Homo sapiens: one gene and its partners. The protein of the gene in region 3 purifies or fractionates together with the protein of the main gene of each other region. This does not show direct contact. Each region holds a gene or a part of one and is shown on either strand. Other genes may lie near its edges.

Evidence for each region. Proteins that work in one complex are often made in the same cells at the same time.
Region 1: the proteins of ELAVL2 (region 3) and PUM2 purify together in Homo sapiens (co-immunoprecipitation; 3 studies listed by BioGRID and IntAct, with this or other methods). This does not show direct contact.
Region 2: the proteins of ELAVL2 (region 3) and IREB2 purify together in Homo sapiens (affinity purification with mass spectrometry; 2 studies listed by BioGRID and IntAct, with this or other methods). This does not show direct contact.
Region 4: the proteins of ELAVL2 (region 3) and RO60 purify together in Homo sapiens (co-immunoprecipitation; 3 studies listed by BioGRID and IntAct, with this or other methods). This does not show direct contact.

The regions. Positions count from the first base shown.
Region 1 is NC_000002.12:20,249,845-20,253,410, reverse strand, and holds part of PUM2 (pumilio homolog 2), read left to right. Parts: intron 1-1,694; coding exon 1,695-1,826; 3' UTR 1,827-3,566. UniProt on the Homo sapiens protein: Sequence-specific RNA-binding protein that acts as a post-transcriptional repressor by binding the 3'-UTR of mRNA targets.
Region 2 is NC_000015.10:78,499,519-78,501,953, forward strand, and holds the end of IREB2 (iron-responsive element-binding protein 2), read left to right. Parts: 3' UTR 1-1,935; downstream 1,936-2,435. UniProt on the Homo sapiens protein: RNA-binding protein that binds to iron-responsive elements (IRES), which are stem-loop structures found in the 5'-UTR of ferritin, and delta aminolevulinic acid synthase mRNAs, and in the 3'-UTR of transferrin receptor mRNA.
Region 3 is NC_000009.12:23,695,986-23,701,697, reverse strand, and holds part of ELAVL2 (ELAV-like protein 2), read left to right. Parts: intron 1-93; coding exon 94-319; intron 320-5,712.
Region 4 is NC_000001.11:193,062,546-193,066,111, forward strand, and holds part of RO60 (RNA-binding protein RO60), read left to right. Parts: intron 1-3,566. UniProt on the Homo sapiens protein: RNA-binding protein that binds to misfolded non-coding RNAs, pre-5S rRNA, and several small cytoplasmic RNA molecules known as Y RNAs.

The DNA of each region.
Region 1 (3,566 bases), on a different chromosome or scaffold from region 3:
GACAACATAGACCCCCATCTCTACAAAAAATTTAAAAATTAGCTGGGTATGACGATACATGCCTGTGGTCCCAGCTACTCAGGCAGCTGAGATGGGAGGATCGCCTGAGTCCCGGAGGTTGAGGCTACAGTGGGCTGTGTTCATGCCAGTGCACTCCAGTCTGGGCAACAGAGCAAGACCCTGTCTCAAAAAATAAATCAGTCATTCAAAAGAAATTCTTAAGGAATCATATTCATTTCTCATCTGTTACCTATGTTTTACATTGTTCTTTTTGCCTTCATCTTATTTAACTGTACAGTTGCCCGTCAGTAACTGGGGGATTGGTTGCAGGACCCACCCACTCCTGTGCCAAAATTCACGGATGCTCAAGTCCCTTATATAAAATAGCGTATAGTATTTGCATATAACCTAAACATATCCTCCCATATACTCATCTCAAGATTACTTAACGATACCTAATACAGTGTAAGTGCTATGTAAATAGTCATACTGTAATGATAAGTAAAAAATCTGTTTAATACAGACTTTGTCATTTTTAAAAATATTTTTGATCAGTGGTTGAATCCACATATGCAGATGGCAAACTACATTTAATTTACCATAATACATGGGTTGAACATTGATTTTAACCTAATACATTTTTCTAAGTAGAATTTTGTGTTTATGTTGTGGGGAGGTAGTACTAACTCATAAAATTCCCTTTAAGCTGTTTCCTCTCTGTATCCTCCTCCTAGAATCTAATAATTCTTTAAGAAATTAGTAATTGCAGCAGGAAAACTTATAAAGAAAACTGAAAGAACACTGAAAAAAACACTTATTTTGAATACTCTTGATCTTAATGAATTCATTTACAAAACATGAATTACATAACCCCTTTGGTCGTCTCCTCATATAGAGAGAAAAATGATATCTTAGGATTCCTTCCATCTGTAAAAGTGTTTTGGTCTTCTGATTTTTAAAATTCATTCTTCAACTTGATGTAAGTTTTCCTTTCTTTTTCTTTCAAGACAGGGTCTCTGTTGCACAGGCTGGAGTGCAGTGGTGTAATCTCGGCTAACTCTAGCCTCAACTTCCTGGCTCAAGCCATCCTCCCACTTTAGTCTCCTTAGTAGCTGAGACTACAGGCATGCATGCTTTTAGTTTTGTTTATATTTTGTAGAGATGCGGTCTCGCTATGTTGCCCAGTCTGGTCCCAAAGTACTGGCCTCTAAGTGTCTACCTATCTTTTAATTGAGTGTTTCTGCTGTAAACTAATGAATATAAAAAATTGCAATCTTATTTTTAACAGCTGCGTTAGTTATTTAACTGGTATCATATTTATTATATTTGGATCCTCCCTAATTGTTTAATTGTTATAAGTAGTGCTTTGTACAAAAGTCTTTTTGTAATTTTTTTGGTGGAATAAATTCCTGGATGTGGAATTACTGGGTAACTTTCTTGCTATGTTTGGGGCCTCTGCCTGTTTCCACGTGACATAGTTAGATGTAGTGTTTTATTCATTGAACAATTTCGAGAACAGATGTTTGGAGGGATTGAGCAGATCACAACTGCTTTTGCAAAAAGTAGCTTTCTTTGGATTTAAATTTTTTTTAATTGCAGTTATTCCTCTAAATTACCCAGAATTGGGGGTGCTTTTTTAAGAAATCAGAAACTAAAATGACTTAGATTTTCTAAGCAGATTATTTGTTTTTCAGATTCGACCTCACATTACTACTTTGCGCAAATACACATACGGGAAGCATATACTGGCCAAGTTGGAAAAGTATTATTTGAAGAATAGCCCGGACCTAGGACCTATTGGAGGACCACCAAATGGAATGCTGTAAATTACAGGAGCAAGAGAAAGAAGATAATTTAACCATGTGAAAAGAATTTTTTTGTGTGTGAATTATCAAAACACAACTCAACTATGAATCTTCAATTTTTTTTTAAAGCAAAACTATTTATTGACTTTATTCATCCATTTGTAAATTTTTTAAGGTTCTTGTGTATATTTGGGGGGTGGGGGATGAATTATAAATTATATTCAGCCCTGAGTGGAGACCTATCAGATTGGATTGCTGGCAAAGCACAGAATGCCTGTATATGATGTAACTGTATCAAAAATAAAAAGCTGTCACATATTTTGTAAATTTTTACCTTGTAAAGTCACAAAAATAGTTTTTAAAGGAAAAAGTACAGTATTCTTTTAATAAACTGGCTCACAGTCTGGTAGGTCTACAACCCCATAGCACAACAGGTTTATAGAGATGTATATAGAATTATAGTCCTTATTTTTTTCCTTTGCGTGAAACCTTTTATAACAGATTAACAATCAACTGCATAAATATTATTAATATTTTAAAAAGAGTTAAGTTGTATTTTGATAATTCACAAACTATCATGCAAATAACGAGTAAGTAGACAAGAATAAAGTGGTTTGAGATGAAAAGAACCTAACATTATTTACAGTAGATGTGGTTTTAATACAATTACTGCCCTAAAATGTCTCTGGCAATGTACAGAAATATTGTATATACTTACATATGTAATTGTTGTAAGAGTTAAATACAAAATCATGGTGACACTTCCAATTAAGTGCACTAAATGAAAAGTTAAGTCACTTATTAACTTTTCAGTTTGGTTTGCAATGAGAAAGAGTGGAAATTTGTATTTTGTTTTGCTTATAGAATTACAGACATGTTGAGGAAGTGTTGAGCTTTATTTTGCTTTTTCATAGAGGCAGAAAGTAGGAACCAGATAGAGATGAAAAGGGGCCACTGAAAAGTGAATTTGATAGCTCAGCATTTAAGCATGATTACATATTCAGATAGCTCTTTTTGCTTTCTATAAATATATGCATTGTGTGTGTAGTAATAGATGTAAGTTTACACTTTGAAAGGAAATCTTGTTTCAATGTTTATTATAAAAGCCTTGCTAATTTAGTAGTGATGCTTTCCTTGGTTGTACAGGTGTACATTTGTAAACCTTCATGCTGTAAATGGAATTTGTTTTATCTCTTTGGGATACATTTGCATTTTAGTGTACATTTACGTCCCTGCCCTCTTTGACCTGGCAATATAGTGTTGTATAATGTAAATTTATTTCTCCAAATCGAGAGTGATTTTTTAAAAATTTTTTATCTTTATATGGTTTCAGAAGTATGAACCAGCTTTCTTTTTATTATTGTGAGATCATTTTGTTTTATAACATAGTTGTTGACTGTTAATATGGACCTGCTAGAATTTGGATCACTTTCAATTGAAGTCAGGGTATTGTGCATAATAGAAAGTATTGGACTGAGATATTTGGTTACCATGGAGGCCAATGCTTTTTTCATCTTATTAAATGTGATGTGACTTTTTTCTTTGTACAGAAGAGTACTGTATTTTTGAATAGCCTACTCCCAAGTAAGAGCAAATCTGTATGATAACATTTTTTCCTCTGGACATAAGACATAACAGTAACACGATGTACATTTACAAGCGGCCTTATGTACATTTCCCAACAATCTTTTTAAGGCAAAATTGTGACCATATGTGTATAATTAAAATCGTTTTTAATCCTTTGCCTATGAAAATATTTTG
Region 2 (2,435 bases), on a different chromosome or scaffold from region 3:
GAAACTACCAAACCAGTGGATGAAGACCACTAAGAACTTTGCACATAATCATACAATCTTTTGAAAATATTTTGCAAATATGTGTTTAGACAATAAGATGGACTAGAGTTCGACAAAATGATTTCTTTATTTAAATTTTGTATAAGTATTTTCTTCGACACTTTCAAATTATATTGTGTTCTTGATATATGCTGTATATTTATTTGTTAGTGCATGTGTTTTTAATTTACATGAAAACATGAGTTAGGAGAAATTACAGGTTGAAAGATGAAATGCCTGTATGTGCTCTGAAGAAATGGTAATTCCAGATTGTGCAGGGGGAAACAAATCTATTTTGTTTTGTTTTGTTTTTTGAGACGGAGTCTTGCCCTGTGGCTGGGCTGGAGTGCAATGGCGCGATCTTGGCTCACTGCAACCTCCGCCTCCCGGGTTCAGGGGATTCTCCTGCCTCAGCCTCCTGAGTAGCTGGGACTACAAGCATGCACCACCACGCCCAGCTAATTTTTGTAGTTTTAGTAGAGATGGGGTTTCACCATGTTGGCCAGATGATCTGAATCTCTTGACCTCGTGATCCGCCCGCCTTGGCCTCCACAAGTGCTGGGATTACAGGTGTGAGCCACCACACCCGGCCTATATTGTTTTGAAAGCATACTCTATATATAGTTATGGGCAGAGGCACAGGCATCCTCAGCAGCTGATTCAGGAGATGATGGTAAAGCTAGCTAACTATGAATTAAACATTCACATATCCAGTCTACCTGGTCCAGTAATAATACAAGCAAATCTTGTATTTCAGGAACAAATCAAGGTTCTCTTAATTTTTTGGCTTATATACAATGAAGTAAAAACTTGATAAACATGGTTTCAAATTGAGGAGGAGAGTCTTGGATGTATGTTTTAATATGTATACCTTATAATTCTGCCTCTAGCCAAATGCTATGTTTGCAAAATGTGGCATCTGTTAGTTTTTATTGTCTGTGTCTTCTTTGTTTACTATACCTTGGGTAATTTTGTGTTACCAAAAAAAAAAAAAAAAAAAGGAAGTGTAATGTCAGACACACAAGAAAAGCAAATCAGTGTTGTAAGCTTAAAGTACAATTTCAAAGGTCACTACCAACAGCAGGGTTTTTTTTATACTTTGAAAACATTATGCTACATATCATTGCCATTTTCATATTTTGGGGTTTTGCTACTCTTATACAATGGAATCAATGGAAATGTCATCCAGCCACTGAATTGCCATTATTATATCTAAAAAGTTTCTAAGATGACAGTTATCACTATTTTGTTTTATCTCCATGCTGACATTTGAAAGAAGGTACTAGTATCCCTCTAGCCAGATTGCTTAGTTTTTCGTTGGTAATCAAACAACAGTTGTACTAAAGGAAAGTAAAGCTAGGACCTAAATCAGAATCATAGTTGCCTGCATATATGGTAACAAGGTCGTGTGCATTTGCTTTCACAGTGATGAGTGAGAGGATGAGAAGAAATTATTTGACATTTTTCTGTGGTTGAATAGAAGACACCTTTCTTTTGTCTTTAGGTTTAGGAGGAGATACTAAGATACTGGATGTTTATCCTATCTTAGTTTGGTTGGAGTAATAAGAGAGAAGAAGAGGGTGGACTTTGGCTTTTCAGTGTTTTTTCCCCTAAAGAGTGATATTGCTGACGTTTCTATCAATTTTACACATAATATGTGGCTATGAAACCATATATCTCACTTAAGTAACAAAGTAATCACTTTGTCTATCACTAAGTAATAGACAAAAATCATTGTCTATTATTTAAAGCCAACAAAACAGTGTAACAGTTTTAAGTTCAATAATGTTAAGTATTGTATAGAAATATATTGGAGGCAAAGTTCAGTTGATGACAATTGTGTATATGTTACTGATGCTGTAAATTATTTTTAATAAAGAAAATTGTATTATCACATTTGATTCTTGTTCTGTTTTGTAGTAGTTGAAAATAAAACAACATGATGTAAAAAATATGCTGCCATCCGGCTGGGCACGGTGGCTCACGCCTGTAATCCCAGCACTTTGGGAGGCCGAGGCAGGCGGATCACGAGGTCAGGAGATCGAGACCATCCTGGCCAACACAGTGAAACCCTGTCTGTACTAAAAATACAAAAAAATTAGCCGGACATGATGGCGGGCGCCTGTAGTCCCAGCTACTTGGGAGGCTGAGGCAGGAGGATAGCATAAACCCGGGAGGCAGAGTTTGCAGTGAGCAGAGTTCACGCCACTGCACTCCAGCCTGGGCGAAACAGTGAGACTCTGTCTCAAAAAAAAAAAAAAAAAGCAAAAATGAAATGTCCCGCCATCCAGATGCCATCCAGGAGCAGCTGAGGATGCCTGCTCCCTGTGCTGCCCGTTCATTAGTGTTCATGAAACAAGTCATCGGAAGCTGGGAGCCAGGATCCCAGGTGTATT
Region 3 (5,712 bases):
TCTTGAGAAGGAAAAATTAATGTGTCCTTTCTTCTCTCCTTCCCTTCTCCTTCTGTTCCCTCTTTTCCAAATCTTTACTCAAATCTACCATAGGCATATCAAGGGGTGTAGGGTTTATTCGATTTGACAAGCGAATTGAGGCAGAAGAAGCTATCAAAGGCCTAAATGGCCAGAAACCTCCCGGTGCCACGGAGCCAATCACTGTAAAGTTTGCTAATAACCCAAGCCAAAAAACCAATCAGGCCATCCTTTCCCAGCTGTACCAGTCTCCAAACAGAAGGTATCCAGGACCGCTAGCTCAGCAGGCACAGCGTTTTAGGTAAGTCTGGTTTGGTTCTTGTGCCCAGCTACTAAACTGAAAGAGAATACTCAGGTTTACTGTCCAGTACTTTTATTGACAGGATCTCTGGTTTGCTTTTGTCAGTGTTGTTGGTTTTATTACTATTAATTTTTCATCTCCATGGGCACAGAGAGAATCTACTTGAGGAATAGTGTCTTTTGCTAATATTGAAGGTGGGGACCAAAGGACAGTAACCTACAGCAGTGATTCTTAACCAAGGGTGATTTTTGCCTCCCAGGGAACATTTGGCAATGTCTAGAGGTATTCATGTTGGCACAACCTGTGGGGGTGCTACTAGCATGTAATGCTAGAGGTCGGGGATGCTGCTAAGCTCCTACAGTGTACAGCATAGCCCCAGCAACCAGAAGTTACCTGGTCCAAAGCACCAATAATGCTGTGGTTGAGAAATTCTAATCTGTAGCTTTCTGGGGTTATCTGAATTGTTTCCAGGGCTTCAGATTTCCTTTTTTTTTTTTCTTAAAGGATTTTATTCTCATGTGTCAATTTTTAGGTCAAGCTGTTTCTGTTACTTCACTTTATAGTATGTGCACCATTAAGGGTATATAACCTATGTGACTACGTGAAGTTTCTACAAATGAGTTCCTCTCTTCCTTTTCAAAATTGTTTACAAACAGGTTGGCAGACTTTCTCTGTACAGTACCAGATAGTAAATATTTAACTTTATGGGTTATGGTCACTGTTGCATCTGTCTTGTTTTTGTTTTTAAACAACCTGTTAAAAATGTAAAAGCCATTCTTAGCTTATAGCCCATACAGCAACAGGTGGGAGGCAGTCTCCATTTGGCCTGTCGGTTGTAATTTACTGACCTCTCTGTAGTTCATAGAATGACCGTGGCTTTAGCCCAAAGAAGACACTCTATCTCACTGACAGGTGTACATATGCTAACTGTTTAAGTTTTATTCTGATCCTGGGATAACAAACCAGGAGTCATTCAAAAAATCTCTAATCTGCATGTGAGAAGAACAGTGACTTTAAGAAGTTAAGCAGAGCAGAGAGTTTTTGGTTTCATAAGCAAGTCATGCAGTTTTTATTTTCCAGGACATTTTTAAATATCCTTTTTGGCCATATGGTACACTATACCCAGAATGCTATCTAACCCCACACTGATTTTTAAAAATTATTTCCAAGTGCATATCAATTTTATTTATTTCATTCATGGGACAGAATAGTTAATTACCAAAAATATAATCACAAATATAACCTAATAAGATCAGGAGTTATGTTTTCTAGCTTAAATCTATGCATTTATTTTTTTCATTGGAATATTTGCAGTGCTGAAGAGAGTGGAGATAAAATCAGTTAAAAATAGCTCCTTTTAAAAAAATACTAAATTATGTTGCTTGAGATATGAGAAGGAAATTTGTTATGAATGCCACATTAAATTTCAACTTAAGTTGGCCTTTGCCGTGGGAGAAGAGGTGGTACTGTCAAAAGCATTGAGCCTTGTACTTCATGCTCTGCTGTGAGGAAAAGGCATTGGTATTAAAAAAAAAAAAAAAAAAAAAAAAAAAAAAAAAAAAAAAACCTTTGCCACCTTTGACTTCCCATGGTAGTGGTGATCAGACTAGTGTGGGAGATGCGTGGGGCTGCCTGATGCTTGCCTTTGTGGAGAAAGAAGTCTCACAAAGAAAGCCCTTTTTCAGCTCTGCACATAGGTTTCCTCTGTGACATCTTAAGTGAATAATATATGTATAAATATACTTTTTTAAATTGCAAACGTAGGATGAACAAGCCTGAAGGAATTTTACAGGTATTTCCTAGGCAGCTTGTCCAGTTAATTTCAGAGCTCTTTGGGGCCTTGAAAATGATCTCGAGTTTAGATAGAACAAAGTTCTTCATAATGTATTGGTTGATTTTTAACATTGTGAAGTTATAAAATGTTTGCTGTTAGTGGAAAGCTATATTAGCTACTTTTTTTTTCCAGATTGAAGCAATGATTTTGTTTGATAGTTATTAAGTAAAACAAAGTTCTTGGAATCAAGATTGAATTCTTAGGAAGATTGAGAAGACAGGATTTGGGAGAGTGCCTGATTATTGAAATGGCAAGGCTTGTAGGTGACTCAGGTGCTAGGTTGTTGATGGGTGTCAGCCCTTAGGTTTACCTAGCCTCCATCCCTGCAGGCTCTGTGCTTTTTATTTTTGGTTGAGTAAAGCTTTACAGGATGTTCTTATGGTCAAATTTAATTATCTTTTTCTGGCCCATTCTGTGTTTTTATCTTTTAGTACCATATGTTATCATTAACTTGAAAATTCTTTTTCCTTCACTCCTATAGAAAGACATTTTGGAAGAAGAGAATAAGAGATTGTCAGTTGTAAGGGAAACTTGGTTTCAGAAAATGGGAGAAATTGTTATTCTCTCTTCAGATTTTTAACTGTTGTCCCATTCACCCCATTTCTCATTCCTCCCATGATCCCTGTCCAGATAATAAAATATGAACGAGTTAGTGTGCTCAGAGATAGTGTTTGATCTAGATTGGGTGTGTTGGAAGAAATCAGATTTCAGGTTTAACCTGATGTTTGATGCTTTTCTTTAATACAGTATATTGAACCTGGTTGTCATTATCTTGATTTCCGCCCCACTCCCCCTTCTTCTTTCACCTGATAAAGAAACTTGAATTAAGGGCTTGCTTGTTTTGTTGGTATTTTGCTGTTTTCTGTAGTTCGAGTCTAAATCATCACACAGATATATTTTGTCCCTGATATTTGTGTTTTAATGCTCTTGCCTTGAGTTTTTGTCACCTTTCAGCAGACATGTAGAAAATTTCTCACTGTATTTTTATGTTCTCATAGTACCTTGGGAGTTGAGAGAGATTGAGCAATATAAGTTATATGTATTATGGTCAAGAATACTTTTAATAATCATAAAGTATGAGCCATATCTTTTATGGTCAAAAAGCTTAAAAATCCATGTAATAAGGGTTAAGTTTAAAGGTGGGTTTGTGAGGTTTATGGCTTAGTCAATCTATGAATAATCAGAGAATTGTTGTAATATGAGCACTGCTGGTCTAATACGCTTATTTAATTGACTGCAGTTTTCAAAATAGGACAAGCCTTATTTATTTGGATGGATGGTGTAATTCAAGCCCCTTAAGTATATTCTTGGGACATGATATCAGAATTAAACTTTAAGCCAAATTTTTTCATGTTCTTTTCTGTGAAACAGCTATAATTTTATTGAATATGATCTAGTGTAATGACCTGTGTGCCTGCTTCTATGAGCCTTTATGCATTTTTTAAAAAGCCTTTTAAATGAGCACTTGAGTTGCCTTTAAGGCATGACGTACTGGTTGCATTATCACAATTTCCTTTTGGAAGAAACCGGTATCAATCCCCTTGAATACTTTTCCTCTTTCTTAGAGGACAGATGATACCATCTAATTGAATAAGGCAGTAAGGCAGTAAGAAGATGATCTTGTTGTAGATAATTTCCAAGCAGTTCTCGGTTGGCGCTTTGGAGAGATTTTGATAATCATTATTTGTGGGATTCCGAGTATATTTTCTTACCCATCAATAACTTATCTTCCTATTTTTATTTCTGACTTTAATCGGGTTCACATTTCCCCTTACTTACATGTAGGCCTTCCCATAGTCCATCAGCTAATTTTTTTAGAAATTAGGCAGGTACTTTATTTTTATTTTCTACTTATGAACACCTAGCTTTAAAATAGGAATGATCTGATACATGGTTCTGTTCAAAATTTTGACAGGTTATAATTGGAGCTTTGGTCCTGTTGATAGAAAAATGTTTATACACATCTCTCTCCTATGTGCCTTTTTCATAAATTACATATGTACATGGGCGTGTGCTATTCATTAAATTATAAACTCTAATCAAACATAAAAAAGGATAAAGATGAGACAATCTGTATTAAATGTCTTGCTAATTACTATACTGGTTGGCTTCATTTTCCATGTACCTAATATCTTAATAAATGTCTTTTAAAGCAAGACCATAAAATAATTTCAGATATCTCATCTGACTTCATGTGATGCATGTTGGATTATCTTGTGTCTAACCTTATAATGTAGCTTGTACTAAGAGTAGGAGAAATAATCGGCTCTCCCTTTCCTTATTTACTTGTATTTCCCTTACTGGTACCATTCTTTACTCTGATTTACATTTGTAGTAATCTTTTTTTAAGTTACTTTTTCTTTAAATGGAGGTCATTTTAATTAAAGCAGGTTATCCAGTCTAATCCTCCATATCTGCTTGCTGTGTTATTTGTAAAATGGATTTTGTTCAGGCTAAAGAGCAGGAGAGAGTGCCACTCGCCGCCTCTCCCCTTCGATGATTGCTCAGTCTTCCCCCAGGGAGGCAGGTGATACACAGGACTGAGAAGGTACTGGGTTCAGTGCATCTATTAAATATAAGTAAAAAATACTTTATTTTAAATACATATTTATTTTATATTTTATTTTAAATATATATTTAATGGATACTTTAATATTTACCTTCCATATGTACTACGTTATCATCCACACCCCTCCCTGAGATATTCTGGAGGCAGCTAGCTTGCTCTCCATTTAAAAATTGACTTCCATTTATAAATGACCATAAATAAAAGATGGCTGGGCGTGGTGGCTCACTCCTGTAATCCCAGCACTTTGGGAGGCCAAGGCGGGTGGATCACGAGGTCAGGAGATCGAGACCATCATGGCTAAATGGTGAAACCCCGTCTCTACTAAAAATACAAAAAAAATTAGCCGGACGTGGTGGTTGGGTGCCTGTAGTCCCAGCTACTCGAGAGGCTGGGGCCAGAGAATGGTGTGAACCCGGGAGGCAGAGTTTGCAGTGAGCCGAGATCACGCCACTGCACTCCAGCCTGGGTGACAGAGCGAGACTTCGTCTCAAAAATAAATAAATAAAATAAAAAGATGTCCTTGAGCAGTGGACAGACCCAGCAGACATATTTCTAGGGGCTTGTTGTAGTAGTCCTTGTGTTTGAGCTGCTGCACTATTTTCTCTTACAACTGCCTGTGTTACAGTTTGCCAACTGCTACTGGATTTGGAGTGAATGGTGCCCATGTAGAGCACCCGTTGCCTTTTCTGAGCTCCCATGGGAAACATGAATCTATGGCACCGAGAAAGCTAGGAAATACTTCTGGGCTCAGATGCATACAGTCAGGGGGCTTCAGCAGTGCCTGGGCACTGTTTTCTAGGTTCCATGCTTCTCCCTACACTCGTTGGTGATGGAGGAGAAGAAAGATTAGAGTGGATAACTTGGCTTAGTTCCAAAGGACCAATTTTTTTCTAAAATGAGAGAGAAGTGAAGGAATCAGTGAAGATCATGGTATCATGTAAAACTTCACAGATAGGGTAAAAAAGATGCCCTATCATAATTTGGAGGGTC
Region 4 (3,566 bases), on a different chromosome or scaffold from region 3:
AGTTCACTATTTTGAAGTATCCAGTGCATTGGGTTCTAGTATATTCACGGAGTTGTGCAGTCATCACCACTAATTTCTGAACATTTTCATCACCCAAAAAGAAATCCCCTACCCATTAGCAGTCACTTCCCAGTGTTCCCCCACTCCGACAGCCTCTGACAACCTTAGACTAATGTACTTTTTATTTCTATGAATTTACCTACTCTGGAAAATTCATATAAATGGAATTGTAATACAATATGTGGCCTTTTGTGACTGGCTTCTTTGACTTGGCATAATGTTTTCAAGGTTTGTTTACATTGTGTCATGTATCACTACTTCATCCCTTTTTATTGTCTAATAATAGTCCATTGTATGGATATACCATATTTTTTTCATCCCTTCATCAGTTGATGGACATTTGGGTTGCTTCTCCTTTTTGACCGTTATGAGTAATGTTGATAAAAACATCTGGATACAACTTTTGGTTTAGATACATGTATTCATTTTTCTTAGGTGTGTGGTAGAATTCCTCGGTCATATGCTAACTATATTTAACCTTTTGAGAAACTGCCAGACTGTTTTCCAAAGTGGCTGTATGATTTTACATTCCCACCAGCAGTATATGAGCGTTTCATTTTCTCTAAATCCTCACCAACACTTAATATTATTGTTTTGATTATAGCTGTCCTAGTGGATGTGAAGTGGTATCTTATTGTGGTTTTGATTTGCATTTCCCTGATGACTAATGATGTTCGTCATCTTTTTATGTGTTTACTGGCCATTTGATAATCTTCTTTGGAAAAACACCTTTTCAGATTCTTTACCCATTTGTGTGTCTTTGGAGTAATATTCACATCTTTTGCCTATTTTTACTTGGGTTATTTATCATTTTATTATTAAGTTGTAAGTGTTCTTAATATATTCTAGATACAAGTCACTTATTGTATGTATGATTTGCAAATATTTTCCTTTTTCTTGGGTTGTCTTTTCACTTTCTTGATGGTGTCCTTGGAAATACAAGTTTTAAATTTTGATAAAGTCCAGTTTATTTTTTTATTTTGTCACTTTTGCCTTTGGTGTCTGCGTTCCAACACTAATTCTGTAGCATCAGCTGGGTGTCCCCCACTTCCGTTTAGTTCTGGCACTAGCTGCCCAGGGTTGGCATCAGATCCCACAAATTAAAGGACAAGGTCCCCACTAAGAATGCCATTAATTTGGACACCAGCTGTAAATGGGGTCCCCAGGCTACTCACACTTCTGCCCTGCGGACTACAAATTCAAGACTTCCCATAATCCCCTCAAGGCTGATAGTTCACTAGAATGACTCACATAACTCACTGAAAGTGCTCTACTTGCAATTACAGTTTTATTATAAGGGATACAACTCAGGAACAGCCAAACAAGAAGTAGACACATATGGCAAGGTCTGGGGCAAGGGAAGGATGCAGAACTTCCATGCCATCCTTGTGAAATGTGGGATACAACTCAGGAACAGCCAAACAGGAAGTAGACACATATGGCAAGGTCTGGGGCAAGGGAAGGATGCAGAACTTCCATGCCCATCCTTGTGAAATGTGGGCACATCACCTTCCCAGCACATCAGTTTTTGTTCACCAAGGATGCTCCACTGAGTATCGATGAAGAAAGTTTTTATGAGGTTTCATCACATGGGCATGATTGATTAAATCATTAGCTACATGGCTGAACTTGATCTCAAGTCCTCCTCCTTTCATGGAAGGTTGGCCTGACCAGTTTATTCCTCTAAACATATAGTTGGTCTTTCTAGTGATTAGCCCCCATCCTGAAGCTACCTAGGGGCCCATGTTGCCTCATTAATGTAACAAAGACACTCCTATTTCTCAGGAAATACCACGGGTTTTTGAAACTTTCTGCTGGGTATTATGTCCAAAGACCAGGTACTCTCTCTTATAAGATGCCACAGTATCACATCACTTTGCCGAATTTTGAGTTTATGTGTGTATCACACTCAGTGACAAGAAGGAGAGTAACTTGGGACATGTTATTCTGTTTTCTGTCTTTTAAAATATGAATATGACCCTGGTAAATTTATATAATCAAGTAGGAAGGTGCCCTGGCTGCTAATAATGTTATCTGTTCCACTGTTTTATGTTGCACTCTGGAAAGTACAGTCACAGAAGCATAGGAAAACCTGAGCAGTTTCTGCTGCAGAAATACTGAAAGGGTATGTCCTCAGGGTTGTCATTTATATCATAACATGCAAAAGGAAGAGTCCATGAATAAGTAACTTTATTTCTTCTAATAGGGATTATAAGGATTATACTTAGAGATTACCTCTTAGACATCCTTCATAGATTTAAAAGTTCATTTTGCTGCTTGCTCTAGAGAAGTACCTGAATACCTAATATTAAATATGTTAGAAAAACAGAAATTTTGTTCTTAGATGACATTTTTACTCAGTATTCATTACTTTTCTTTAGAACTTTATTTTTTCTTGATTATATTTTTCACTACCTGCATATAGTACATTTATCATTCTGATTACAGAATTTATCTTAAAGACTTGTATTATATTTTGCATTATAAATATTGAGGCTTTTATTCTCAAAATGTGTTATGGGAAAGAGAAACCAATTGTGCATAATTATTTGGCAAATGGTTCAGAAAGTCAACTTTAATGATATTTGGCTTTAAGTATGTATTGCTAATTACATAAAAGCAATACAAAAGAGGAGACAAAAATGATAAGATTTGGTTTCTACTTTCAAGGGAACCAATAATGTAGCTACATGTGGTCACAATGAATAATACAAGGAAAAGAATTTGAGGGGAGAGGGAATTTTGAGGTTTGGTTTGGGACCTTTTAAATCCCACCACTTGGGCCTTGGTGCAGGAAAGCAAGTTTAGTAGAATTATCTGATATTAGATGTCATTTCAGTGTTACTCATCTAACAAATAAAACTAATAAGCAGAAGTAGACAGGTTGAAGTGCAACCAGAGCCTGTTTTTATGAAAGCTGAGGGAGAGACTAGCAAAGTCTATGTAATGTAAAGATCAGAAAAACATAACATTGTCTACTGGAATTGGCAATTAAGGTATCAGTCTTTGAGAAGCATGTTAGTCTTCTTAAAGTGTTTTGGATCGAAAGGTAGAGATAAAAGCCAAATTTGAAAAGAGGATAATAATAAATAGGAGAACAGGCATCCACTGCAACAGGAGTTTCAACCTATGCTGTATTCAGTAACTATGAATTTGTCCCTAATGACTAATATGATCATTACATCTCTGATGCCACCTGAGACCTAGGCTTCCACTAACATAAGCAAATTTATACTAGCGTCTTATTTGGAATATTGACACTAATATTCCGAACACAATTCAGATCACTGTCCCCCTCAGTCACATTCAAAATGTGAGGCTCTTCATTCTCCCATGCACTTATCCCTACACCACTATGTGTTCCCCTCTCTGAGACCCAGTCTTTCATTCCTCCCCTCTCTACCAAACTTCTCCACATACCATTTGGCATTCTACATCTCCTGTCAGGGGGGAATGTCTTCAGTTTCCTTATCCCTCATTCCTTCAAATCTATCTTTACCTATACT